Homo sapiens: one gene and its partners. The protein of the gene in region 2 interacts with the protein of the main gene of each other region in a biochemical or structural test. Each region holds a gene or a part of one and is shown on either strand. Other genes may lie near its edges.

The links.
Region 1: the proteins of SLX9 (region 2) and BUD23 are reported together in a solved structure, tested with the Homo sapiens proteins (one study listed by BioGRID).
Region 3: the proteins of SLX9 (region 2) and RIOK2 are reported together in a solved structure, tested with the Homo sapiens proteins (one study listed by BioGRID).
Region 4: the proteins of SLX9 (region 2) and CSNK1A1 are reported together in a solved structure, tested with the Homo sapiens proteins (one study listed by BioGRID).

What each region holds. Positions count from the first base shown.
Region 1 is NC_000007.14:73,693,585-73,698,732, reverse strand, and holds the end of BUD23 (18S rRNA (guanine-N(7))-methyltransferase), read right to left. Parts: intron 5,110-5,148; coding exon 5,064-5,109; intron 4,742-5,063; coding exon 4,683-4,741; intron 1,268-4,682; coding exon of another isoform or gene 1,217-1,267; intron 1,129-1,216; coding exon 1,039-1,128; intron 902-1,038; coding exon 847-901; 3' UTR 521-846; downstream 1-520.
Region 2 is NC_000021.9:44,942,998-44,950,029, reverse strand, and holds part of SLX9 (ribosome biogenesis protein SLX9 homolog), read right to left. Parts: intron 6,347-7,032; coding exon 6,193-6,346; intron 1-6,192. UniProt on the Homo sapiens protein: May be involved in ribosome biogenesis.
Region 3 is NC_000005.10:97,166,237-97,173,268, forward strand, and holds part of RIOK2 (serine/threonine-protein kinase RIO2), read right to left. Parts: intron 7,028-7,032; coding exon 6,939-7,027; intron 5,162-6,938; coding exon 4,970-5,161; intron 2,617-4,969; coding exon 2,524-2,616; intron 1,756-2,523; coding exon 1,231-1,755; coding exon of another isoform or gene 1,203-1,230; exon of another isoform or gene 510-1,202; intron 1-509. UniProt on the Homo sapiens protein: Serine/threonine-protein kinase involved in the final steps of cytoplasmic maturation of the 40S ribosomal subunit. Involved in export of the 40S pre-ribosome particles (pre-40S) from the nucleus to the cytoplasm.
Region 4 is NC_000005.10:149,492,474-149,499,463, forward strand, and holds the end of CSNK1A1 (casein kinase I isoform alpha), read right to left. Parts: intron 4,388-6,990; coding exon 4,380-4,387; 3' UTR 509-4,379; downstream 1-508.

The DNA of each region.
Region 1 (5,148 bases), on a different chromosome or scaffold from region 2:
CCTAATCCAGCTCTGTACTGCAATGCCCAGGATCTTGCCCCTCTTCCCACATGGACCAAAAGGCTCAAGCAACCATTACACCTCCTCTCCTATCACAGCCAGCTGGACAGTCCCACACTACCCCAGAGCAGGACCTTCCCTTTCCAACCACTAGTGACGGGACAAGAGATCAGCCCAAGACATCCAAGCACTGGGCTGGTAGGCAGCTGACCGTGCAGCTCAGTGCCACAGTTCAAGCTGGGGCCGCTGGACTGGCAAGGCCTTCACAGGAAGGGAAAACGGACTGGCCAGCAGGCACCACGAACACATTTCATGTGGGCCCTCTTCCCAACTTTGCTTGGTGTGATTATGATACAGTTATATATAAGCCCTAAATTAAAGGACTCTGTGTTCCTTGCAAATGGAAAGAATGCTTTCATCTAAGTGTTTTAAATCTGATTCCTGCCTGGGGAGTCGAGCAGTAGCCCACCAGGAGGAACTGGAGTTTGGTGAGAATCACAGAGCTGGGAGATGCCAGAGCTCCACAAAAGGAAATTTTATTTCTTGCCTTTAAACAAAATAAGATGCTCTCAGAGCTTTTTTTTTTTTTTTTTTTCCTCCCTGGAAAGGAAGTTTCATTATGTTGCCCAGGCAGGTCTCAAACTCCTGGCCTCAAATGATCCTCCCACCTCAGCCTCCCAAGGTGCTGGGATTACAGGTGTGAGCCACCACGCCCGGCCCAGAGAACTTTTTTTTTACTGCAGAAAACATTTTTATAACTTTAGAACTTTTCTAAAATACTACTTTGTCAGCTGAACAATATAGAAAAGTGCAGAGGCAAGTGCCTTTCCAGAACCGCGTGGTGACTTAGAAGCGGGGCTTGCGCTTGCGGCCGGTGTACTGGGTGTCAGGTCTGACTTCCCTGTGCAGAAAAGGAATAGGACAGTCTCAGAAAAAAAAGATCAAAGCAGCCCTGGACCCTTCAAATAAAGGGAAGCTCTTCATGGCAATAGTCATCCACCCCCCACCCACCCTGCCAGCTCCCAGGCTGGCACTCACCTGCCCTGGCGCCTGTGCCGCTCCTTCTTCTCCAGCACCCATGCCCGACTCTTCCTCACCATTCCCCGCCTCGACATCCTTAATGGGAACCTGTGGCGGAGACACAGCTATGAGCTGATGGACAGCTGATGGATGGGGCTGCCCGACTGGCCCCCATGTGAATCCATGGCAAGCTTACCTCCGAGTCTGGTGGCCTCGGATGCCCCTTCTCTCAAATGCTCCACCTTCCCTATAACACAATTCCCCGCTCTGGACACCCTCCTTCCTGATAACATCCATCCGGGCCACAGAGGTTGTTGGGTGGGCAGAGGAGGAGAGAGCTGGGCCGGGCATGGAGACCTAAACACCAGCGAGCAGTCTGTTCCCTCTTCGGGAAGCAGCTAAGCAGCAGTAAGCAGGCCGCTTTCTACCAATGCAATGACACATCATCACCTAGACTTCAAGAGCACAGTCGACAGTTCACAGCAGGAGCTTAGGGTCCCACAGCTTGGGGGCAGGAAGACAGGGATGGAAAGGAGGGTCTGAAAAGGAAGGACTGAGGGGTATGAGGGAAGAAGGAAAGAGGGCGGGGTAACCCCGAAGACCCCTGTGACCATCCGTAGAAACCAGAGACAGGGCAAGCCAAGGAGCTGCCATTCGGATGCCTGAGCCTGATGAGCCAGCACAAAGCAGGAGCAGCTGCAGAGCAGGGCTGGGGACACAGGAGGAGTCATCTCAAGATTCTACAAAGAGTACAAAGTGAGGGCAGAGTGGCGAACCAGGGGGCAAGAGGTGAGCCATGGGAGAAGCAGCAAGGGGGAAAGTCATCAATGGAGCTAAAGGAAGGAGGTGAAGACGGGGAGTGCCCCAAAGCACAGGTCCCAAGAGAAGTGGGGGCCCAGCCCTGCAGGAGGCACATGAGAGGCATGGGAGGGAGGCGGCCAGGAGGAAGGGAGGAACAGGCCAAAAAGAGAGCCTGGAGACTGATTAGGTAAAGACTTAAAAAACTTTTTCTTAATTCACCTGTTTATTTAAAATAAACAAGTGTCCTGAATGTGGTTAGACTGAGATGACAGTAACGGGAGAAGCTCCTCCCTGCCCTGTACCTCATCTGAGGAACTGGAAGTGAGAGCCTACAGAACGAGGGATGGCAAGGTACGTGCTGGGCACCCTCAACACACTGCCAAGATAGGTGGCACTACCCCTACTTTTTGAATAGCTGAGGAATGGATGCTCAGGTCATTCAACTTACCCACATTTACTTTTAGGACATGTCGTTTGAAGACACCAGTGTAAGGACAAGAAGGATCCTAAGACACATGGAGATAAGGCAATGTGTACTTCCCCTGGGAGGGAGGAGATGGGAGTGCTCCCTGGGAGCACGAGATGGGCGCCTCAGAGAAGAGGTCATCCAGAAGGGTCCCAGCTCCCCATGGGGAATGGACTAGGGAAACTAAGGGAAATGAGCAAAGACCCAAGGGGTCAGGCAGCATAAACCTATGGTGGACGTGAGGAACATGCATGGCTGTGCCCAGCTGTGGGCCTTCCAAACACATGCATTTTGGGCTCATTTTTCCTCTTAAATGTCTTAAAGGTCTTAAGACCTTTCCCTCATGTCAACTGGACCTCAGATATAACCTCCCTCTTCACTACCTTATAATCAATTATTCATTCAGAAAAATACTGAGCACTTTTTACTAACAAGACACTATTTTTAATGTCAGGGATATAATACCAGTCCTCACCAAGTTTTCACTCTAGCTGGAGATACAAATAATAACCAAGTCAACTGGTATGTGTATGACTTAGAGCAGTGAAGGGTGTTAAGGAAAATCAACATGAGCGGGGAGCACAACTGCAATGAAGGCACTAAAAGAGCAATGACAAGATACAACTTACATTTTAGAAAAAAAGAAAAAGACCAGTCTTGCTGCTATGCAGAAAATAATCTGAAAGAGGCAAAGACTGCAAAGGCAAGGAGACAACACAGGCAGCTGTTCAGCAATCCAGGCTAGGGGCAGTGCTGGATTAGGCTCGTTGGAAGCAGGGAGGGTCAGCACGGGGATACACACTGAGGGACGGACAGCAGGGCTCAATGACAGGCTGACAAGATGTGAAATGTAGGGAAAGACAGGAATGATCAAGAATGGTAAAGAATGGAGGATGAGGCCAGGCGCAGTGGCTCACACCTGTAATCCCAGCACTTTGGGAGGCCGAGGCGGGCGAATCACGAGGTCAGGAGTTTGAGAACAGCCTGGCCAACATGGTGAAACCCTGTCTCTACTAAAAACACAAAAAATTAGTTGGGCGGGCGCCTGCAATCCCAGCTACTCGGGAGGCTGACGCAAGAGAATCGCTGGAACCTGGGAGGCAGAGGTTGCAGTGAGCCGAGATCAAGCCACCGCACTCCAGCCTGGGGGGAAAGAGTGAGACTCCATCTCAAAAAAAAAAAAGAATGGAGGATGGCCAGGCATGGTGGCTCACATCAGTCATCCCAGAACTTTGGGAGGCCGAGACAGGGGGATTGCTTGAGGCCAGGAGTTCAAGATCAGCCTGAACAACATGGCAAGACCTCATCTCTACCAAAAACTTTAAAAATTAACCAGGCATGGTGGCATGCACCTGTAGTCTCAGCTACTTGGGAGGCTGAGGCAGGAGGATCATTTGAGCCCAGGAGTTCGAGGCTGCAGTGAGCTAAGATTCCACCACTGCACTCTAGCCTGGGTAACAGAGAGAGACTACCCATGGAAACTCCAGGTATAGACACTGAGGGGGCATTGGGAAACCCCAGGTGGCAAGAGACTGAAGATACACATTTGGGAATTAGGACCTTCCGGCTGGCATTTACAGCACCACAGGTAGAGAAGGGATCCAATCCAGGCTGGGCCCAGCACTCGAAGAGGAAGCAGCAGTGGAGTGAGGAGCAGCCAGGAAGGCTGAGGAAACCACGATGGTGGGTGGAAGGCCAAGTGAAGGAAGCGTCAAGGAGGGAGCGCACTGCTGTCTTTGACCCTACCGAGCAGGCACATTAAGGACATGAAAAAAAGTCACAAGTGACCAGATGTGGCTTGATGGAAATTGGTGGTGGAGTTGACAAGAACAATTTGTGATGAGACAGAATTGTCAGCCTGAGAAGTGGATTGAGAGAATGGTGGGAGGGGAAGAAGAGGCAGGTCTGAGTTCTGCTATGAAGGGAAGCAACAACGGGGTGGTTAGTTGTTGTTATGGGGTTAAGGAAGGAACTTTTCTAGAAAAGGAGAAATTGTGCAGCATGTCTGTGTGCCGACAGCAGTGACCCAGGAGAGTCAAGATGAGGATGCAGGAAGGAAGGGAGAGCCACAGCACCCAAGGGAGAGGGTCCCAGATGCAGGTGGAGGGCAGCATCAGAAAAGAAGGAGACAGCCTGCCAGGCGTGGCAAGGGGAAGGGGCATGTGTGGGCTCACAAAGGGAGTCCAGGCTGCATGGCTGCACCCAGACATCCAGGACCCCAAACCCCTAGCCCCAAACAGGCACAGTCCAAATGGGACCTGATGTTTCTACCGTCACCTTGGTGTCCCTGCTGCATGTGACCTGAGAGGCTTGGGTGAGGGCAGAGAGAAAGTCCATGTCTAACAAATGTGGCAGCCCCCGCTGCAGCCGGGGCAGGCTTCAGCAGTTGCTTTACCTCTCATTGGTGAACACAGACTCCCTGGGTTCAACTTCATCCTGATTTTCACTCAGCCCCTGCAGGAACCAAAGTGCACTCAGGTCACCCTGGAGAGTTCTCAAACCATCTGCCCCACTCCAGAAGCCCAGGCACCCAGGCCTGACCCTTCCGACAGGGACGAGGTCCAGTCCCACGAGAAGGAACTGACACGCCTTTCTGGGACCTGCAGAGCAGAGGTCTCTGCCTCCAGATTCCAGAGGATGTGAGCACTCCAGGGTCTGCACTCTGGGGCTGGGCCCTGCTTCCCCACCAGTGTTCTCCCAGCAGGCTCTGCAGGCTGAGCCCCACTGCCTGGAAGTCAAAAGACACAGGCCTGCCTGCAAACCCAGTGTCCCTCACCTCTGGTATAAAGGTCGAAGGCCCAGAAAACAAGCAGAGGTAGAATCTGAAAGGAGAAAGTGCAAAGTGAGGGTTGGGTGGAGAA
Region 2 (7,032 bases):
CTGTGCAAGGCAGGAGGGAGAGCCTGCGTCTCTATCCCGGGACTGTCCCACACCTGGGCTGACCTGACAAGGACACAGCTCTGCTGCCCTCTGCTGGCCAGATCACCAGGGCAGAGGGACGGCCAGGAAGCCAAGGTCGCGCCCTCCACCGCAGGTCCCTCCACCGCAGGTGCCTGGGGGTGGAGTGGGGTCTAAGCAGGTACAATCACCTGGGCAGCGCTCTGTGCTGACCGGGAGAGCCAGCCCTGCCCAAGGGCTGGGTGCAGGAGCTTGGGATGTCCTTGCACCACAGCCTGGTGGCCTCGTCACCCAGTCCAACACGCCTGCAGACGCAGACGTGTTCCACTGACAGCAGCAGCAGGTCGTACACAGCCGGAAGGCGCAGGCAGAAGCGGCAGGAGTGGCTGCCGGAGCAGCAATGGCGGCGGTGGGTGCCCTGTGCCCGGCGTCTAAGAGTAGGCCTCTGTGGCTTCAGAGCCTGGCTCCATGGTGCGCTCTGGCCTGCTGCTGCTGCACAGAGGGTTCTGGGGGGTAGGCGGAGCTGGGGCCGCGCTTTGGGGACCCGGACAGCAGTGTGGTCCCTGTGTCCACCCGGCCGAGGGTGCTGGGTTCCTCTGGAGGAGGCTATGGTGCAGGGCCGCCTGGGCTGCATCCCTAGGATCCACCCCACATCGGTGTGACTGCCAGGCCCGACACTCCTGACAGCCGGGCCCAGGGCCCAGGGCCCACAATCCACTCCCTGATCAGGAGCAGCCCCCGGGCAAGGCCACAAACCGTGCGAGGGGGAGCCAGGGCTGCATGCTCCACAGAGCCAGCAGGAGCGGGAGCAAGCAGCAGCCAAGTCGGGGCTCGGGACCCTGGCCTCTCTGCACTCTTACCCTTGCAGACTCAGAGATGCCTGCTCCTGCTGCCTGGCCTCTCCCTGCTTCCAACGCCCACTCCAATCTCAAAGGGGGGTTGGGGCTGAGCCCAGGTGCTGTCAGAGCCCGGCCGGGTGTGCACACACTCAGGCCCTGCCACCTTGGCCCCCTCTGGACCTTGGGCATCAACAAGCTCTGGGAGGAAGCCAAGGCGGGGGCTGAGGGTGGCTTGGCGCTGGCCTGCAATGGCCGGACCCCACACTTGCTCACACACACACTTCACCGCTCCACGCCTGACTCCAGTCTCCCTTGGAGGCATGAGATCCAGGCCAGTAGCATGAGCTGAGCTCAGCCTGCCAGGCCAAGTAGGTGAAATGAGCCCAGTGGGCCTGGACAAAACTCAAGCAAAGGTGCCACCGGCCACAGGTATCTGGCCAGAAAAGCAACACCCCCAAAATCCTGTACCACCACCGGCGCCTCTCATGCCCCCACCGCCCCCAAGCCGTCCACCATGCTGTGAGCTCCCTCTCCAGCAATGGTGACAGGCCTCCCAACATCCTCTGCTCCAGGGGCCCCCAGCCCCACCCGGCTCTGAGTCCATACCAGGCCTTGCCCCACCCTGCCTGTGTCTCTGAGCTTGAGTCCCAAGTGCCTGTCTGAAAACAGGTGGGCTCGTTTTCTGGTATGAAGGAACACAGAACTAGAAATCCAATTCTAAGCGTGCTCCATGACCAGCTCCCCAGACGCCCGGTGCTCCACGACCAGCTCCCCGGACCGCCCGATGCTGCATGACCAGCTCCCCGGACGCCCGATGCTCCACGACCAGCTCCCCGGACGCCCGATGCTCCACGACCAGCTCCCCGGACCGCCCGATGCTCCACGACCAGCTCCCCGGACCGCCCGATGCTTCACGACCAGCTCCCCGGACCGCCCGATGCTCCACGACCAGATTCCCGGACCGCCCGATGCTCCACGACCACCTCCCCGGATGCCCGATCGCCCGATGCTGCATGACCAGCTCCCCGGATGTCCGATGCCAAGGATTGGAGCCGTGCCCAAGGCTGGAGGATCAGCCACCACTGGACACCCGGCCGGCTGCCAGGCTCTGGTATTGCACAAGCCAGCTAGAGCTGGCCACACAGCACGCACAGCAGGTGGCACTGCGTTGGGGGAGGCTCAGGAGACGGGTGCTCACCCCGGCTCTGCCACAGGTCCCTCGCCACCCCCAGAGCGGACATGGAGGAGCTGTAGCCCCGACATGGGGTCCACAGGCTGCCGCAAAGCCCCTGCATGCACAACCCGGCCCACAGGCAAAGCTGAGTCCTGCTGGGGAGGTGCAGGGGGTCTTAGAGAGCTGGGGCGGGGAGGGGACTCTAGGCCAGCCTCAGCCCTGCACCCATGCCCTCCTCCTCCCGTAGCAGGAGGCTGCAGAGCTCAGAGGGTCCCTCCCAGGATGCCCGTAAGGGTAAGGCAGGCTCCAGGGCACAGGAAGGGAACAGGGGGTCAGATGTGGCTTCCTGGCGAGCTGGGATCCGAAGGGCTTGAAAAAAAACATAGGAACGATGCCATGAACTTGTCAGTCACAGGATAGGAACGATGCCATGAACTTGTCAGTCACAGGATAGGAACGATGCCACGAACTTGTCAGTCACAGGGACTAACAAGCCCCACCACTTCCCAGGGCTAGAGTGGGGGAGGAGGGGTGCAGATGGGCACACGGGTGTCCACCAGGTGATGGGCCACAGCCTAGACCCCTCCCCTGGGCCACCCAGCTCCTTGGCCAGAGACGCAGCATGCAGTGCTATTCCTGACTCAGGCAGGGCACGGACGATGAGACACATCTTGGGAAGGCGGTGTTGCACTAAGCCAGGCAGACAGGCACCCACAGGCCGCCACCTCACCTCCATAGCCAGGCGGGTCATTGAAGGGTGGCGGCCAAGTCACAGGATGCAGTATCTGCATGACATGGGCACTCAGGCCCCAGCACAAACCCGGGGTGGGGTGGGGGTAGGGACGCAGGGCACCAGCCAATCAGGAGCTGAGGAGACCACACCAAAAAAACAGAACTGTTCCTGGAGAGAGGGAGGAACATGGTGAGGAGCAGCCAAGATGCAAAGGACCCCACTGAGGCGCCTGGATACCTCGGAGGCCTGAAGAAAAGGGGCTGGGGCCCCCAGACCAGGGCAAGCCCCTCCGCCTGTGGGGCTACTCCTCTAAGGGTCTGCAGGTCCCACCCATGAGGGTCTGTGGGCCCTGCCACCCTGCCAAGCTGGTGCTTCACATCCCAGGGCAGGGGAAGTGGAGGCCTGTCCCTCCGTCTGAGCCCTCTGTGAGGTCCCATGGTCCCCTTCATCCAGCCCGGGGCTCTTCAGTGCAGAAAACCCACAGCAGGGCGGTGGAAGGAATATGCACCAGAACCCTGGGCTGAGAGCCACAGCCAGAGACGGCTGGCCAGAGGCCTCGCTCCAGGAGGGCTGTAATGGGGGCCCGCGGCGATGAGCTCAGAACGCCCCTCCCACAGGACAGCCTCCTGGAACACACCTCAGGGACAACCTCCAAGGCACCATTTTGGAGCACCTTCTCCTGAATCCCCCTGGGGCACCAAGGCAGAAATCACAGCCATGGGCAGTGCACAAAGCCACCGGCTCCTGGCCAGAAGCACTAAGTGCCTCCCCAGGCCAAGGCTCCTCCCCAACACCCAAAACCCTGACCCTGCCGCACGGCTCAAATAATTCCCATCCTCGTGCCCCTCAAGGCGGGCTATGGGAAACACCTGCACACAAGCAGGAAGCGCCAGAACGGGCCACGCTACTGTCAGCACGAGCTCAGGGCTGGGGAGCGCCAGAACGGGCCACGCTACAGTCCCGTCAGCACAAGCTTTAAGATTTTTATGCACAAATAAGGGTATGTGAATTAAGAAAAAAATTAATTACCCAACAGACTCACAAACAATAGAATCTTCAAATTTTTTCAACTTATTGTTCAATTATTTCAAGAAAACACTTCTATGCTCTACTCTGATAACATGGTTCTGAAATTTGAAATCAATCTTTGACATTGTAAAGTTCAAGCTTCTACCCTCTCCCACCAGTTACTCTAAATTAATGAGGTTTGAGCTTACGAAAAACAAAGACCAGGCCGGGCGTGGTGGCTCACACCTGTAATCCCAGCACTTTGAGAGGCCAAGACAGGCAGATCTCTGAGGTCAAGAGATCGAGACCATCCCGGCCAACGGGGTGAAACCCCATCTCTACTAAAAATACAAAAATTAGCCGGGCGTGGTGGCGTTAGCTGGGCGTGGTGGCATGTGCCTGTTGTCCCGTCCCCGCTACTCAGGAGGCTGAGGCAGGGGAATCACTTGAACCCAGGAGGCGGAGGTTGCAGTGAGCCAAGATCAAGCCACTGCACTCCACCCTGGCGACAGAGCAAGACTCTGTCTCCAAACAAACAAACAAACAAAAAACAAACAAACAAAAACAAAGATCCAGCATGGCTCAAAGGAGAGGCCACAGGGCTGCTGGGCACGACCTCAGCCCAAGAACGCTGCGAGGCCAGATGTTGCTAAAGAGGAGTTTCCCTGGTAGGCAAGACGGGTCGTGAGCGTGACGTCTCCCTAAATTAGGAGGGGAAGAGGGGACGTGACAGTCAGTGCAGCAGGTGACCTTGGGGACCAGATGAGCCACAGGGGCTTGAAGGGAGAGGGCCAAGAAAAGGCAGAGGAAAGAGGCTGCTGTGTGAAAGAGCTCTGAGAAGCTCAGGCCAGAGCCAGGTCACTGAGACCCACGACTCCCATCCCCTTGGGGACAGCCTTAAGGGCCTTGTCAGCAACCAGGGACACAGCTCGGGCGGACCACCCACATCAAGCGTTCCTGGCTGGAAGGCACAGCTTCTCTCTGGAGTTACCTGGCCTGGTCACCTCACCAGGTCCTCCTTGGAGAGAAGGAGCAGGAAACCTGCACTGGTTAAATGTACCTGGATCTTTCTAGAGGCACAGTGAGGCCCTTAGCATCTATGAGCTATGTCTGTCGCCGCTTTGTGGACAATGGAGCTAAGGGTCACAGAGCACCCGTGATCACATGACTTGTGCCCAAGGAATTAGGGCTGGCCCACCTCTGGGCAGCTGCAAAACCCACTCGTCCCCAGCCTTCCCACCAGACCAGCCTCGTTCAACAGATGCAGAGCGGGCGCCTCCACAGCCTTCACTGCACTGTTTTAAACGTTTCACACCAACTACCTCATCTCAAACTCAAAACTGCCAGAACTTAGGAGATAAATACTGTTACCTCCTTTGACAGATGCAAAGCCCAGGCCCAGAGCGATCAAGTGTCCAGCCAGAGGCTACCAGGCGGTGAGGGGCAGAGGCCCAGAGCCCACGATCTTAACGGGCCATCTACAGGCCCCAGACCCGGCTCCTGCCCTGTCCTGGCGCTCCCAGCTCTGCCGACTGTGAAGCCACATGCAGTCTTCACTGTCACACTGGTGCCCTGAGCTCTGCCCCCACAGCCAGGCCCTCTCCCTCCCCAACCTATGACTTCCCAAGGCTGTCAAGATGTAAAAAGTATTCCTTGTGCTCCTCACCGACTCCCTTAGATGAGTGAAGGAAGCTTTTTCCTGGATTTATCCCTGGGAAGTGACACTGCTCACCATCCTCCAGCCAGAAAGTCAACACTCCCAGCATTGACCATGGTGGCCGGGAACTCTCTAAAACACCTCAGACTCAGTAGGAGGTGCAGGGGGACGGCGTTCCCTGCTAAGCTCCGGACACTGGAGTGAGTGGGAGTTCCCAGACCCTCTCACTGGCCAGGCTGACGTGTGTGCTGCAGGGCTGCAAGGAGCACAACCAGGAGACGGGAAGGGCTGCGCATGGATCTGATGAAACTGAGAGGACCCTGCTTCGGCTTCAGGATCTAAACCCTCAAGAGTTATTTGTACAAAATGATAAGCAGCTAACCTCTGCAACACATAAAGCACTTGTTTAAGAAAAGGATCAAAACTGCCCCAAACATACAGACAGACCGAAAGAATCAGCACACACGGAGAAAACAGTTCAAACCCTGTTGGTCACCAAAGCCCAAGTTCCTGTGGCTTCAGCGTGGCTGCCAGGACGCAGAGCAGTTCTTGCAGAGCTGCGGAGACATGATGCAGCCCAGGGGCAAAACCACAGCTGTAATCTACTCTGGGGAATCGCCCCAAGAAACAGCCAGGGGCATCCCTTGCTCAAGGACATTGTCAGGTACAGGTTAGCTGGAAAGCTGCTGAGACCTCGGGTGCCTGAGGGAACAATCCCAGACCTGCTGGGTATCAGCATGGTAACCCGTCGAGCCTGCCTCACCTCTCCTGATGGAAGGGACGCTCCGTGCACTCGAGCCTGCCTCACCTCTCCTGACGGAAGTGACACTCCTCACGTCCAGCTCCAGCTTCTGCACCAAGGCGCTGGGGTCTATCTTGGTCCTGGCAAAGATGTTGGTGTTGATGAACGCCCAGTCCTAATGTCCCCAACAAAAACGGACGAAAAGAAGAGGTGTGAGACTTGCTCTGTGGTTTCAGAGGGACGTTAAAGGTGAGGAGAAGATGCAAGACAAGAACCTGGATTCCCCAGCTTCTCTGCCCGGGAGGACCTGGGGGAAACAACCCTCACCTCCCAGAGCAGAAGCCTCCGGTTCCAGAGCTCCAGGGCAGACCCGCAGCGCCCAGGCCCACCTGCTCCCTGCCTTCAATCACCAGACGGGCTTCACTCCTGGTTCTTCAGGAGTCAGGACCAGTATCTCAAGAACCAAATTTCCTTCCCAACCATTTCGTCTTACTCTTTCTACAACATTCTCCTGTGTCACAGAAGAAACCTGCAGCTGAGCAGATGAAGGATAGGCAGCTCCCAGCCTGACAGCTCTTTCAGCTCAGACTGACCACATCCCATCAGAACTAGTCATCTCAGCAGCCTCTCTGCCAGGTCTGGTTCTGAGCCACACTCATCCCTGCATGAAGATTTCAGTTCCTCCAAGTCAGCTGCCGACCAAACCGTGAGGAGACAGAACCCCCCCGTCCCTGACCCCCGTGCTGCCCAGCCCATTCATGTGCAAGCCTCACTGACCTTGGCAGGGAAGGCAGCATCGACCTCAACAGAGGTTTCTGAAGGGGGTCAGAATACGCCACCCCAAAACATGTCACTAATTAT
Region 3 (7,032 bases), on a different chromosome or scaffold from region 2:
TGAAGAATCCAGTCTAATACAATCACTTACTCAAAATCCTGAGCCTCTGTCACCCCTCTTTTCCTTTTAAGCTTCTGATTTAATTTTCCAAGTTTATTATTTAAATGGCAGTAGCCCTGTGACACAGATACACAGCTATATGAAAAAGGAACAAAATTCTCATGTTTTGCTTCAGGAATAAAACTTTAAAGATAAAGGTAGGCTTAAGATATAAGCCCAAACATGTACTGAAAAATGTTTAATAAATGTATTGCTGAACTAATTTTAATTGTCATATTACTATTTTGAAATAAATAAAACCAATATTTCATTTAACTACAATTTGATTCTGAATAAGCAATCCCAAATCCAAAAATTAAGTTTTAGAACTTTTCCTAATCTAAGCTGAGCCTGATTAATATTTACAAAAAAAAATTATTAAAAGAAAACATAATATCATTAGATAATTTTAACTACACATGAACAAAGGATAGAAGGCTCAAGGTACTAGAGAAAATTCACTGCAGATGTTTCATATAGAAAGTACATTTATTGCATGTTTTAATATTTACATGCCTTTACATAACTCAAACACACATCAGATGTGTAATTAGGAAAATATATGAGGAATAACTCATCCATCTAAAACCTGATCAATGTATCCAGAGACCTGCAATAATTTTAAAATCATCAGTTTGTATATATATATATATTTTTGAGACGGAGTTTTTTGCTCGTCACCCAGGCTGGAGTGCAGTGGTACGATCTTTGGCTTACTGCAACCTCTGCCTCCCAGGTTCAAGTGATTCTCCTGCCTCAGTCTCCCAAGTAGCTGGGATTACAAGCACAGGCCACCATGCCCGGTTAATTTTTATATTTTTAGTAGAGACAGGGTTTTGCCATGTTGGCCTGGCTGGTCTCAAACTCCTGACCTCAGGTGATTTGCCTGCCTTGGCCTCCCAGAAGTGCTGAGATTACAGGCATGAGCGAGCCACTGTGCCCAGCCATCAGTTTGTATTTTAAGGCAGAATTACTTGAAATTTAGTCAATAGGCTGCCTAGAATCAGGTCAATTGAAAAGGAAGCTATTTTGAGTTTTTAACAACAAAAAATTATTTGGCTTTCATTTTATACATCAAGGTGGCAGAATACAATTTTGTCACATCATTTGAAAAAAACATTCTTTTACTAGAATCTAACAAAGTATCAGTCTCAAGACTAAAGTTAAAAAGCAATCGACAGAAGTCTATACCTGAAAGGCCTGAATTCTCTATTTAATGACGACAAGGCAATTAGATGAGGGCATTCATCTTCATACTCGTCAGAGCCAGCAGGGACTCCTCCTTGAACTCTCTGACCATCTTGCCTGTTGTAATTTTCAGTTCTGTTTTTCTCCTCAGAAAATTCAGTTACAGAGTTGTTTTCAACAACCTGCCCTTTTATTTCTTCTAAAGCTTGATTGAATTCAGTCATTTCAAAACTCCGTGCATCAGCACTCTCTTCTGATAAACTGTCTTCCTTTATTTGTTCAGGGTCTCCAGATGATCTGCAATAGCAGCCCTCTGATTCTTCTAGACAGTTCCGTTCACTTTCATTTTCTGACCCGTAAACCTCTGCTTTTTCTGCCACTTCTCCATCTGAAAATGAGAATTCAGATCCCTCTTTTGTTTCAATATTTTTATCATCTGGACCTAATGGATGAAGCAGTTCATCATCTGCCTGCATTTCCTTTGTGTAGCCACTGGCAGAAACCTCCACATCAAGAGTGTCTTCTCTCCTAGAAAAAAAAGGCGTCAAGCATAGAAAGAGAGAAAAAATGTTTATCTAAGAGGAGCAAATATCTACTACTCTGATAAATTATGATTCAAGTGAGTTTAATAGCTTATATGTTAAAAATAAATTTTCCTTCCCTAAAATGTAATATTTAAATGACACAGGTAAACAAATATGAAAGGTATATGCTGGCTGTCATTTTAAGAATAAAATAACTGAAAAGCAACAATATAAATAAAAAGGTTATAAAAACCTCAGCTTATGTTTATTAACTTTGTAAATTAACTTTCAAAGGGGGCTAAGGATTTCCTTCAGATTATGTGACTCATCCCAGATCAGAAAATATCTTAAGTGTATAAAATAAATATGAGAAAACTGAGCTTTGAGAATGCACATGATAGTTATGTTTTGAGAATCAATTAAAGATACCTCCTGGTCCTTGATAAAGGAAAAACACAAATTTCAATGAATGTTTGGTGTTATTCCTTATGAATGAGTTACTCAAATAGCATCCAAAATAGAATAAAAGTTCTTGAATTTATAAGAATCTAGATATGTCCGCTTCCTAAAATTCAGTAACAGTGCCTTAATGGACCAAATGCAGGTATTTTCAAGTTTTTAAGTTTCAGTTATGTACTACAGAGCAATGACATCTAACAGTGATTACGTGTCAAAATTTGGAAAGTTTTTTAGATGAAAATGTTAATTTTTAGAAATACACAGACCAGATATTTAAACTGTTCTATTATGTAAAGCAATGGGGAGTACAAACCTGATATCCTTAAAAGTTGGAAAAAGCTCACTTTCGTAGCTGAAACGTTTCATAAAGAAATCTTTAATGCATTTAACATCTCTGTCAAAATACCTGCAAAAGCAAGAATCATTTATGATATAGTCTTTATTGCTCCTCTTTTTCCTTATTAGCCAATGACAATATACTTATTGGTTAATGGTATTGCTCCTCCTTACACAAGGAGATAAAAGATGTTACACAAAAGAAAAAAGATACAAATGAGTTAACCAGTGTGTTTGAAAAACTAAAATCCAAGGAAATCTCAAGGATATAAGCTGTCAATGCCATGCAGTTCCTACGGTTAGGAAAGTCAAGGTTTTGTCATAGTTACTGGTATATAGTTAGATACACTAGGGAAAGATGAATGTGAACCCCAGGAAATAAGATAATGGGCCTATGGTTTGGGGATAGGTTTCCACTTATTCTGTTCGTCCTGAGTCTGGCTATGCTTCTTATCAGCAACACTCACTAGAACCCCTAGCCAACTGAAAGATCTGACGATAAAAAGATATTAATATTAAACAGTTAAGTTTGGAGACTACTGAATTATGTTTATGTATCTTTGTTATCCATTAGCCGATTTGCAATAACACCCAAAGGGATAAATAATGCTACAGCCTATAAAAATAATCTGAGGACATGTTAATCTGGACCAAAAGTAGAACAATATCTGAATATCAGGCTGCCTTTTTGGGCCACCACAAAGCAGCAAAAATGGATTCAATTCTCTAGAAGATTTCCAGACAAGGGAGAATTAAGGACAGGATAATGTGCAATTGACTCTCTTTGAGAAAGATGAAGTTTGGAAATAGGAAGATAATGCCTCTCCTCTTTGCTCACAGGGTACTCTGGGAAAAATACTAATACATTTTAAAAAGACTATTTTATATATGTTTACATCTCCCTACGAGACAGTAACATTTTCTAAAGCATATATAGGGGTTATTTATATCTCAATCTCTAGCAATTAGCACAGCTCCTTGGCCCCAGAACTGGTTCATAAAAATTGAAATTAAATCACAATGTCTCTCCATAGAACGATGCAGCCTAAACCTAGAATGTCATAATCTGTCACACTCTGGAGGCTCCTAGATGTTCCTTTACTGTGTGACTATGTTACTCCTTATTAATAAAAATCATGATTAGTCATCATCCAAAGAGTACTGACCACCCCAGTGCCAGGCATTAATCTTTTAGTATTATTTTGTTGAAAACGTTTTAAAAATTTATTTTCAAATGACATTTCTTTCTGTAGCATAAGTATAGACATTTTCTACTGGAAACCAGGATGAAGAGACGCTTCACTTAACAAAACTACTTCAAGCTCAATCTCTGGAAGAATTAATATACTCTATTATATAAGTGATACTAGTTGTTAGTTTAGGAAAAAAGTTTCTCATAAAGCTTGGAACAGAAAGAAAAAAAAATCCTTAGTTACACTCAATTGAATCATAAACCTCAAGCAAATAAAGGATAAGGTCCTGTTTCATGACTTGGCTGGCTTGGTTTAAATAAGTAATGTGAAGAATATGATTATCGCAGTATATCATGATTCTGCACTGTGTCAGAGATAAAGTTTTATGTGATTTTTTTTCTAATAAATAAAGCTAAAAGTGACAAGAGGTAATTATCACTGGTTTGACAACTGAGTCCAGTCCAAAACCACAACTTTTATTCAGATCATCGAGATTACTGAGTTATACTTGGTGAATCTCTCTTGGAGGCAATCATGGAACAGCAAGAAAAAGGGAAAGACAAAAGTGGTTCTAGAGTTCCCCACTACACTCCCTACTTTTACCTGTTTTAACAATTGGTCTTCCATCTAAAAGTCTGTTTGAACAAAGGGTTCCATGGCTAAGAAAATTTGACTTTTGAACGTCTGTCAATTTACAACAGAGAAATTCAAATTCTTATGGGGAAAACTCTAGTAGTTATACTTTAATAAAAAACCAAATTTTTATAACGTTAACACTAGCCACTTCAAACCAGTGACTGACCTAAATAATAGTATCACAAAATTGAAAAATTATGAAAAAATGATTATATTCTAAACAAACACACCCACATCCAGAATCAATAATAGCATGTAAGGGCCGGGCGCAATGGCTCACCCCTGTAATCCCAGCACTTTGGGAGGCCGAGGCGGGTGGATCACCTGAGGTCAGGAGTTCAAGACCAGCCTGACCAACATGGAGAAACCCCATCTCTACTAAAAAAAAAAATACAAAAAATTAGCCAGGTGTGGTGGCACATGTCTGTTATCCCAGCTCCTCGGGAGGCTGAGGCAGGAGCATTGCTTGAACCCGGGAGGTGGAAGTTGCAGTGAGCCGAGATCGCGCCATTGCACTCCAGCTTGGGCAACAAGCAAAACTCCGTCTCCAAAAAAATAAAATAAAATAAAAATAAAAAAATAGCAAGTACGTACCACTCAGCATTGGGATGAGAAGTTGAAACCATCTGTGGAAAATCAATCATGGTGATATGGTCACTTTCATCCAAAATGAGATTAAATTCATTAAAATCTCCATGAATCAGCCCATGATTTGCAAGTTTGACAATTAGTTCCATAGCTTCATCATATACTGATGCAGGATCTTCAACATGGTGTATCTGACATCTGAAAGTATTTTAAGCATGAAAATAGGTTACTTGTGTTCATTTACGGTTTTAACGAAAGTATGTATGCATGTGAACATATATATTATTTCCATGCTGTGTATCCCCAGCAGCTTTCTTCTCATTCCCATCAGCACACAGATATAATATCTCCCATCTATTAAAAAAATAGCCACACTGCTTCAATTCTGTATCTCTTTTCTACTACTACCTTTCTTTGATCTTTACAGCCAAACTTGTCTACATGTGCTTTTCCAATTTGTTTCCTCCTACTCTCTCATACCATTTCAAACAGGCTTTTTATAACGTTAACACTAGCCACTTCAAACCAGTGAGTGACCTAAATAATAGTATCACAAAATTGAAAAATTATGAAAAAATGATTATATTCTAAACAAACACACCCACATCCAGAATCAATAATAGCATGTACGGGCCAGGCGCAATGGCTCACCCCTGTAATCCTAGCACTTTGGGAGGCCAAAGTGCTTCCAAGATCACCCTTGTTGAGACTACAATGACTTCAATGTTGCTAAATCCAAAGGTCAATTCTTAGTCCTCATCATATGTGGTCTGTCAGTTGACCTCTTTGAACATTTTCTTCACTTAACTCTTGGGACACCATTCTCTCCAGGTGTTCTTCCTTCCTCACAGATCATACCTTCTTAGTCTTTTCTATTTGTACTTCATCTTTTTCCTTGACCTCTAAATTCTGGAGTTCCTCAAAGGTCAATCCTATGACCTTTTATTTTCTCTTATTTAGACTCATTCTTGGTGATCTCATCTAGGTTAATGGTTTAAATACCACATATACACTGATTTTAATGTAGACTTCTCTAACTCCCAGGCATCTCAAACTTAGCATGTCCAAAATGGAATCTCTGATTCTGTCCCACCCTCCAACTCCAAAATGCTGTTCCTGTAGCTTTCCTGTTTCTATACATGGTAGATTTCTCCTTCCAGTTAATTTGCTACTCAGGGGAAAAACCTTGGTGTCACCATTGACTCATCCCTTCCTTCACATCCATATCCAATCTCAAATCATGTTGGTTCAACCTGCAGAACACATTCAGAATCTGACCACTTTTCATCACCTTCACAACTATCACTGTAATCAGAATTACAACCATTTCTTGCCTAGATTATTGTAATAGCCTCTTAACTTGTCTTCCTAATTCTTTGTCTCCCCAGAGTCTATTAATTCAGCAAGCAGAGTGACCCTCTGAAAACACTGAGATCACTGATTGATGAGATCACATCTCTTCTCTGCTCAAAATACTCCCACTCCAATAGCTGCTAATCTGAATCAAAATTTGATGAGGTTTCACCTTATTAGTGAGACTTTTCTTGACCACCCTACATAAAACAGTAGTCTCCTGTCCCGTTAGTACTTCCTATCTCCCTTACTCTGCTTTTTTTTATCCATAGTACTTACTAACAATTGATATACATTTCCTTTAGTTATTTATTGCACATCTCCTTCCATCAGAATGTAAATTCCATGAGGGCAGGGACTTTGTTTTGTTCACTGCTGAGATTAAAAGTTCCTGGCACCTAACAGTCTCTTAATATTGAATGAATGAATGAATCACAGAGATTACAAAGTTCATATTGTCAGAATGAAACTGGGTTTTTAATTTGTCTTTGAGTCTATTCCTTTAAATAAATTTTAACCTCCCAGAGGCAATATTTCATTAACTAAAAAAAATTTTATTAAAAACCCTGAAACTTAAATTCATTTATCAGGATTCATGGCTTTAAGAATAATGAATACTTACAGTGGATAACCATTTATGAGTTCCATGACCACTGCATGACGATTGTAATCAATTGGCTTTGGAACTGGAAATTTCCTCTCATACAATGCCTAAA
Region 4 (6,990 bases), on a different chromosome or scaffold from region 2:
AAGTAAGGGAATATAACTATCTTCCCTCCAACTCTGTGCTTTGGTATCCTTATATGCAAAATGGAGACAGGATGTACTTCACAGGGCGCTGATTAGGCAAATACATGTAAAGCACTTAGAATAGTGCATGACACTCAGCAAATGATGGCTAATACTATCAATCTCTGGGTTTAAAAGGGTGATATAACAAGAGGAGCACCATGGCTTAACTGCATGAAAGCAAGAAAATCAGGTTGAGGTCTTGGCTCTATAAAGCTTACCAATTACCAACATGCCTTGCCTTGGGCAGCCCCACTCTTTTCTGAAACAGTTAACTGTTTCTTATTACTGTTATGAGGAATAAAAGAGATGACATATATTAAGGATTCTGAAAACTAGTTTGCAAAATGGTGATTTTTCTAACACATAAAATCCTTTCACCTTAAATTAGCTGACATTCAAGTTAGAGCTTTCTCTTCTCTCCATTTTTAAGTCAACATGGAATCATGGTATCTTATTCAGTGAGTTGTAACGTTGCTACCAGTTTATTTTGATAATTGACACAGATTTAGCAAGTATAATCCTTCAAGTGGCTCCTGTGCCCTTTTGACATGTATCCACCTTTTTGTTGTTGTTGAGACGGAGTCTCACTGCAACGCCCAGGCTGGAGTGCAGTGGCACGATCTCAGCTCACTGCAACCTCCATCTCCCGGGTTCAAGCGATTCTTCTGCCTCAGCCTCTTGAAAAGCTGGGATTACAGGCGCCCGCCACCACACCCGGCTAATTTTTGTATTTTTAGTAGAGACAGGGTTTCACTATGTTGGCCAGGCTGGTCTTGAACTCCTGCCCACTTCGGCCTCCCAAAGTGCTGGAATCACAGGCGTGTGCCACTGCTCCTAGCCAACCACTTTTTTTTTTTTTTTTTTTTTTAGATTTCCTTTGTGGCACCATAATAGAATGTTCCAGGTTCATCTCATATTTCTCCATCCCAGGAGCCATTATTACTCTACTTTTGAGTATGTCCTCAAAACTGGTCTAACAAGTCATTTCAGAAAATAATTTCACTTCAACAATACACTGTTTGTTGATTCAACACAAACTGCATGGGCTGCTTAGATCAATTTACACTTGGTTCATCGCCATCTTTGGCTGTTTCAAACATACACTGCTAAAAAAAAAAAAAGATTGTCATTAAGAATATTACAATAGAAATGGAAGTTTTGAGGAGGAAGAAAATCCCCCAAAATGTAAGCAATGGTAATAATGCATTTAAAGTATAGTCTCACAAAGTCTCACTTAAGAGAGCAGCACACCCAGGACACACATATTGATCTGCTGACACCACTTCTTTACTATACTTCATATAGATGTCCTCACATCTTGATTTACATGGTTATAACTGCTTAAAAACTGGCAAAGAGAAAACCTAAAATAATGCTTTATACCAGTTTGAGTCAGAACCAGACTGTTCCAGACTAGTTGGAAAACGACCCAGGAACTCACCTGCATTAAATGCTGAATTTAACTGAGCTAAAAATGTCTAGGCCATCCCTTCTTAGAATTCCCATGACTCATTCTAGTCAAAAGCTATAAGAACATATTCCTTAATAGTTCAGCAAACTTTAGGGAAAACTAGCTCATTGTCTTGGGTTCTAAAGTCCTTTTGTTTGATTATTTTTATTATAATGAAATTAAACTTATGACTATTACAGTATGCTCAGCTTAAAACATTTATGAGTACTGCAAGGACTAACAGAAACAGGAAAAATCCTACTAAAAATATTTGTTGATGGGAAATCATTGTGAAAGCAAACCTCCAAATATTCATTTGTAAGCCATAAGAGGATAAGCACAACCATATGGGAGGAGATAACCAGTCTCTCCCTTCATATATATTCTTTTTTATTTCTTGTTATACCTTCCCAAAACAGAGACATTCAACAGTAGTTAGAATGGCCATCTCCCAACATTTTAAAAAAACTGCACCCCCCAATGGGTGAACAAAGTAAAGAGTAGTAACCTAGAGTTCAGCTGAGTAAGCCACTGTGGAGCCTTAAGTGGTGAGGTCTTCCAATTTCAGAGTGATGTGTCTTCAACTTGTATCATCATTTTAGCGGAAAAACATAATTTAATTTTGGTGAAATGAGATTCATCTCGTAACAGGATTAGTAACAGCATTCACTGAATTTCACACTCTTCTTTTGTGAACAGTGAAGAAAATGAATGGTAGCTAGAAGATCAATGGGATTCCAGCTCCAGCTGCAGATGGAATGACGATATACCAGGACAAAAAACACCTATATTTTGATTTACAAAGCTAACAGCAGTTTTAAATCTGCAACTTAATTACAGACCAACTACACCACAACCTTTTCAAATGGCAAAAATACAAAAAAGTGTTACAAAAATATTTCAGAAAAAGTGCATAGTCTAAGTGCATAGTAAATAAAAGCACTGAAAAATATCTTGCTAGAGGGAGTTCAGCTTGGAAGTTATTACCAAAGCTAAACATTTTTATTTTACACAAACTATACTCAAAAATAGCTTTATGAGACTGATTTCTGGCTAAAAGTATCAAAGGGTTTATTAGTCAAGAAACAAATACCTCAACCGACAAGGGTGGATAGAAAAGAAACAAAGAAGCTGCCTACCCCAGAAGTTCAGACTTAATAAAATTTCTTCAGTATTACGGTACTAATATCCCTTAATGGCAGAATGTGATAATCATGGAATTAATTATTGCTAAAGTAGTTTTCAAATAAAAAAAAGAAAAAAGAAAACAAAACAAATTAAACTTGACACAATCTGACCAAACACGTGTCAATTTACAATTTCAAGGTTATTTTACAAAATACCTACATTTACACAATAGGCTCCCGGCAGCATTTCCAGACAAATGTTCTTTTAATTTATCCTGACATGCTATAAATGAATAAATTACACTATTTAAAAATTATCATCAGTAAGTTTTCCTTTCTCATGGGTCAGAGAAAAAGAAATGAGCGTGCAAAGAAGATTGAGAGGAAGCGCACGCACACAGATAACTTAAAGAAGCAGGAGGGGCTGGGGAGGGTCAACAATCACTGAACCTCACACAGTGTGATGCTCTCCAAGGGTGAAAGTCAACTGCTTATAGCCATTTCAAAAGTATTTTAAAGAAAAATGTTTTGTAGGGAAACCCTTTAATGCTTTCATTTTTATTCAAAATCAGTCCAGCTGCTAGTCAGCGGGCAGCAGCTACAATACCAAGTTCTGGCAGTTGCAGTACTAGATATTGTGCCTGCAAGTCATAAAAAAAAAAAAAAAAAAAGAAAAAAATGAAAGAATGCCTTTCCCCTTCAGACAAAAGAATTACTTTTTTCATTTTTCTTAAAAAAAGAGGAAAAGTTATAACACGAAACCTAAATTGACTTGCAAAGGAATACCATGTAACAAATGGCTTGAAGTAGTCTATCAAAAAATTGGGGAGATTTTTATTTAATAGTGAGTCAGCAAGGCATTTTTTGTTGTTTAAAAAAAATCTCATTTCCTTACAGAAACAGTTTTTAGTTTTTAATGAACTTGTAAACAAAAAAGCTCCCATTTCAAAATAAAAACAAAATCCCAGATCATATAGATGTTTACAGTGATTACATTTATCTAAGCAACATACATACATGTTCAGTTGTAAGATGTTAACTAAATTTCTGTGACAAATATGCTTTTTTTTTAATACCAAGAACATTATAGAGTTAATGCAGAGTCCTAAGGATAATCTAGTAGTCACTAAGTTTTTCTTAAGTCTTCACTTTAGATGCTGTTATTTCTAGCACAATTAAGCAGGCAGAGTCTTTCATATGCTCAAACACTGGAATCTTTGGTTGCTACCATATCAGCTGGCTTGCAGACAAGAAGCCAACCATTTTAAGAATGTTTTAAGTGAACAACTTGCAAACCCCAGGGATGGAAAAACCCTAAGAATGCACAATTGTGAGCATTTAACAACCATCACAACTGTGGCTGAAGACTGTTCATGCCGTTCTTCTGAAATGAGATCTCAAAGCAGTATAGTTCAAAACAAAAGGTTTTAACAAAAAATTGGCATATGCACAATTTCTCCACCAATTTTTGTGTGTCAACCATTTAGTTAACTTTTCCACTTGAAAAAATGCAATAGAAAACCGGACACCATGTTTCACTATCTCAGTTAATATTCACAATTACAGAGGCTACAACTCAGGATACAGCATCACCAATGCTGCCCAGAGTCAGTTTATACTGAAATTAAGTTCTTTACACCAAGTAAATGGTTGTCCACAACCACTGGCTAGTGTACATATGAACTAAAATTTCTAGATTTGGGGAGAAACAAATGCTGCTCCGATCATCTGCTCTGCTTCTTCTGTTCCTCAATTCATGCTTAGAAACCTGGTAAAAAATCAAAACAAAAAAAAAGTTAAAATTCCAAGTCAAAAATTTTAAATTACACCCAAAATATGGAAATTGGGTGGAACTGAGCCAATAATTATAGTGGCTCATGTTATTTCGTCTCTTGTGAAAAGTATTAGCTCAACTTTTTAAAACAGAAAAACATGAATCTATACTTAAAACTAATTTTTTCTGTTTTGAATGACTCTAGGAAGGAGTGGTACAGTGAATTCAAAGCCTCTCAGCATACTAAAATAATTATTAGTAATTCAAATGAGCATGTTTCTGCATTTTTACATATGCAGAACATATTAGGCATTCACATATTTATCAAATCAATGAAAAACAGATTGCTTTGCTTTAACTAAAGAATACAATTTTAATCCTACCATAGGCACAAATTATTTCTGACACAAATTAAAACGGTTAGCTTTAATAATAAATGCATTCAAAGCATAATTATCTGTATTATTTTACTAAACAAAGACCTGAGAAGCATGTAATTTCTGTAGAGAAACCTTAGACCTTTAAAACTTCTTTACCGGCCGCATTAGAAAGATTGTTTTGTGACTCATTTAAAAATGTAAGCAAGTGATGCTTTTTTGGCTTTATTTACTTCTCAAGCCTACACATTCTACAAATACTTCCCTCCTCCACCACAAGTAGACCCTAGGGCCTCTACATAGGCCCTAGGCCAAGTTTGAATACAAGAAGCCTCAGGTCATAACCACACTTTATCTACAGCTAAAGGCAAAGGGAGAAAATATGCCTGTCCCACAGCAATAGCCTGAAAATCTCTTAAGCACCGTTTTTCCTCTCACCAGACACCCACTCTGAGGCACCAATGCTCCTTTGTCTACCTCCTTACAAATGAGCTAGAAACTATAGCTCATTCTAGCCCACTCCAATCAATCCTCACTTCTTCAGCCCAGGTCATGTTTTCTTCAATCATAAACTGCTCCTTTTCTTTTAGTTCTTTTTTCTTTTTTTTTGGAGACAGTCTCGCTCTGTCACCCAGGCTGGAGGGCAGTGGCATGATCTTGGCTCACCGCAACCTCTGCCTCCTGGGTTCAAGCGATTCTCCTGCCTCAGCCTCCTGAGTAGCTGGGACTATAGGTGCCTGCCACCATGCCTGGCTAATTTTTGTATTTATAGTAGAGACACAGTTTCACTGTGTTGGCCAGGCTGGTCTCAAACTCCTGACCTCGTGATCCACCCGCCATGGCCTCCCAAAGTGTGGGGGTTACAGGTGGGAGCCACCGTGCCCAGCTTCTTTTACTTTTTAAACATTTGTTGGGCCATCTCCCATGGGCTTTGTGGGAGAAACAAAATAATTCTAATATTTATTTCTTATGCATATATGCCCCTTTTTTTTTTTGGGAAATAATAGCGAACATACAAGAGAGTAGGTGCATAATAGATCTTTGTTGCCTGGGTACTAAGTCCATAAGCACCAAATGCCAAAAATGAAAGATAACATAACTTTGAGAATATACTTCACCATAGGGAATATCATTTGATGCATGTTATTAAGAAGTATTAGCGAGGTAAACCTTTCTTTTAAAGGTTGTCAAACCAAACCTTAATAAAAATCTGACTATACCCTGTGACCAAATTTCAATTTTAAAATACAGGAAAAGTTTCAAGCTTCTTGTTTGGGAGTTTAAAAAAGAAAAAAAGTACAATACAGGATAAGCTATGCAGGTTAAGAAACTAAGGATTAAACAGAAATTAAACAGATTAAACAGGATTAAACAGAATTCCCCCATCAGGATTTGGTTTCAAGTCTTGCAATTCTTCTTAAACATGATTTAAAAAACGTATTTTCACAACTACTAAAATTGCTGGGTTTTATCATAGTTTTCTTATGTAATCATATTAAACTAATTGTTATGGTGAATATACCAAATGGCTTTCAAAGGGAAAACCACCATCACTAACAAACTAAAATGGAAACATGCTACATTGTCAGTCAAAATACAAGGAAACTCTTGTGCCTTTAATAGCAAGAAAACTTCAGAATGTATCTGTACATCTTTTGACCTGTTATCTGAGGAATTGCTGAGTCAATAAATGATTACAATTGTTTAGAAACTGGTAAAAGGCTACCCTAACAATATTCCTGGTAGAATAGAGCAGTCAAATCCAGCTTTAACTCTTCAAATGGGTCAATGGTATGACATTCCAGCCAGGGATCAACATTTCTCCAGTGAATTGTCCTAAGATGTTACTGAAGTATGTTTAGGAAAAAACCTCAATAGGAATATTCAACAGGTATTCAACAGTCTTGCAGTACTAAGCATTCTTTTCCCCAATACGCATTGGTCTTTGGTTTTTATCTTGCAGATTAGGTGGCTCATCCAGGCTTCCAAGAGTTCAAGAACCCATCTTCACTGTAACATCAGTTAAAATGAGGAATGAATCCCTTTATTCCTTAAAAAAAAAGGGGAGGGGGAGGGGGGAGTTAAAACAGAGTTGGAGGATGTGATGATTAAGAAGTTAATAGCTTAATTAAATTTCAAATCTGCAAAAAGCAAAAAAAAGTTTATTTTTATATAACTAACAAGGATATTCTATCCCTGCCCGCCACCCAATCTGAAATC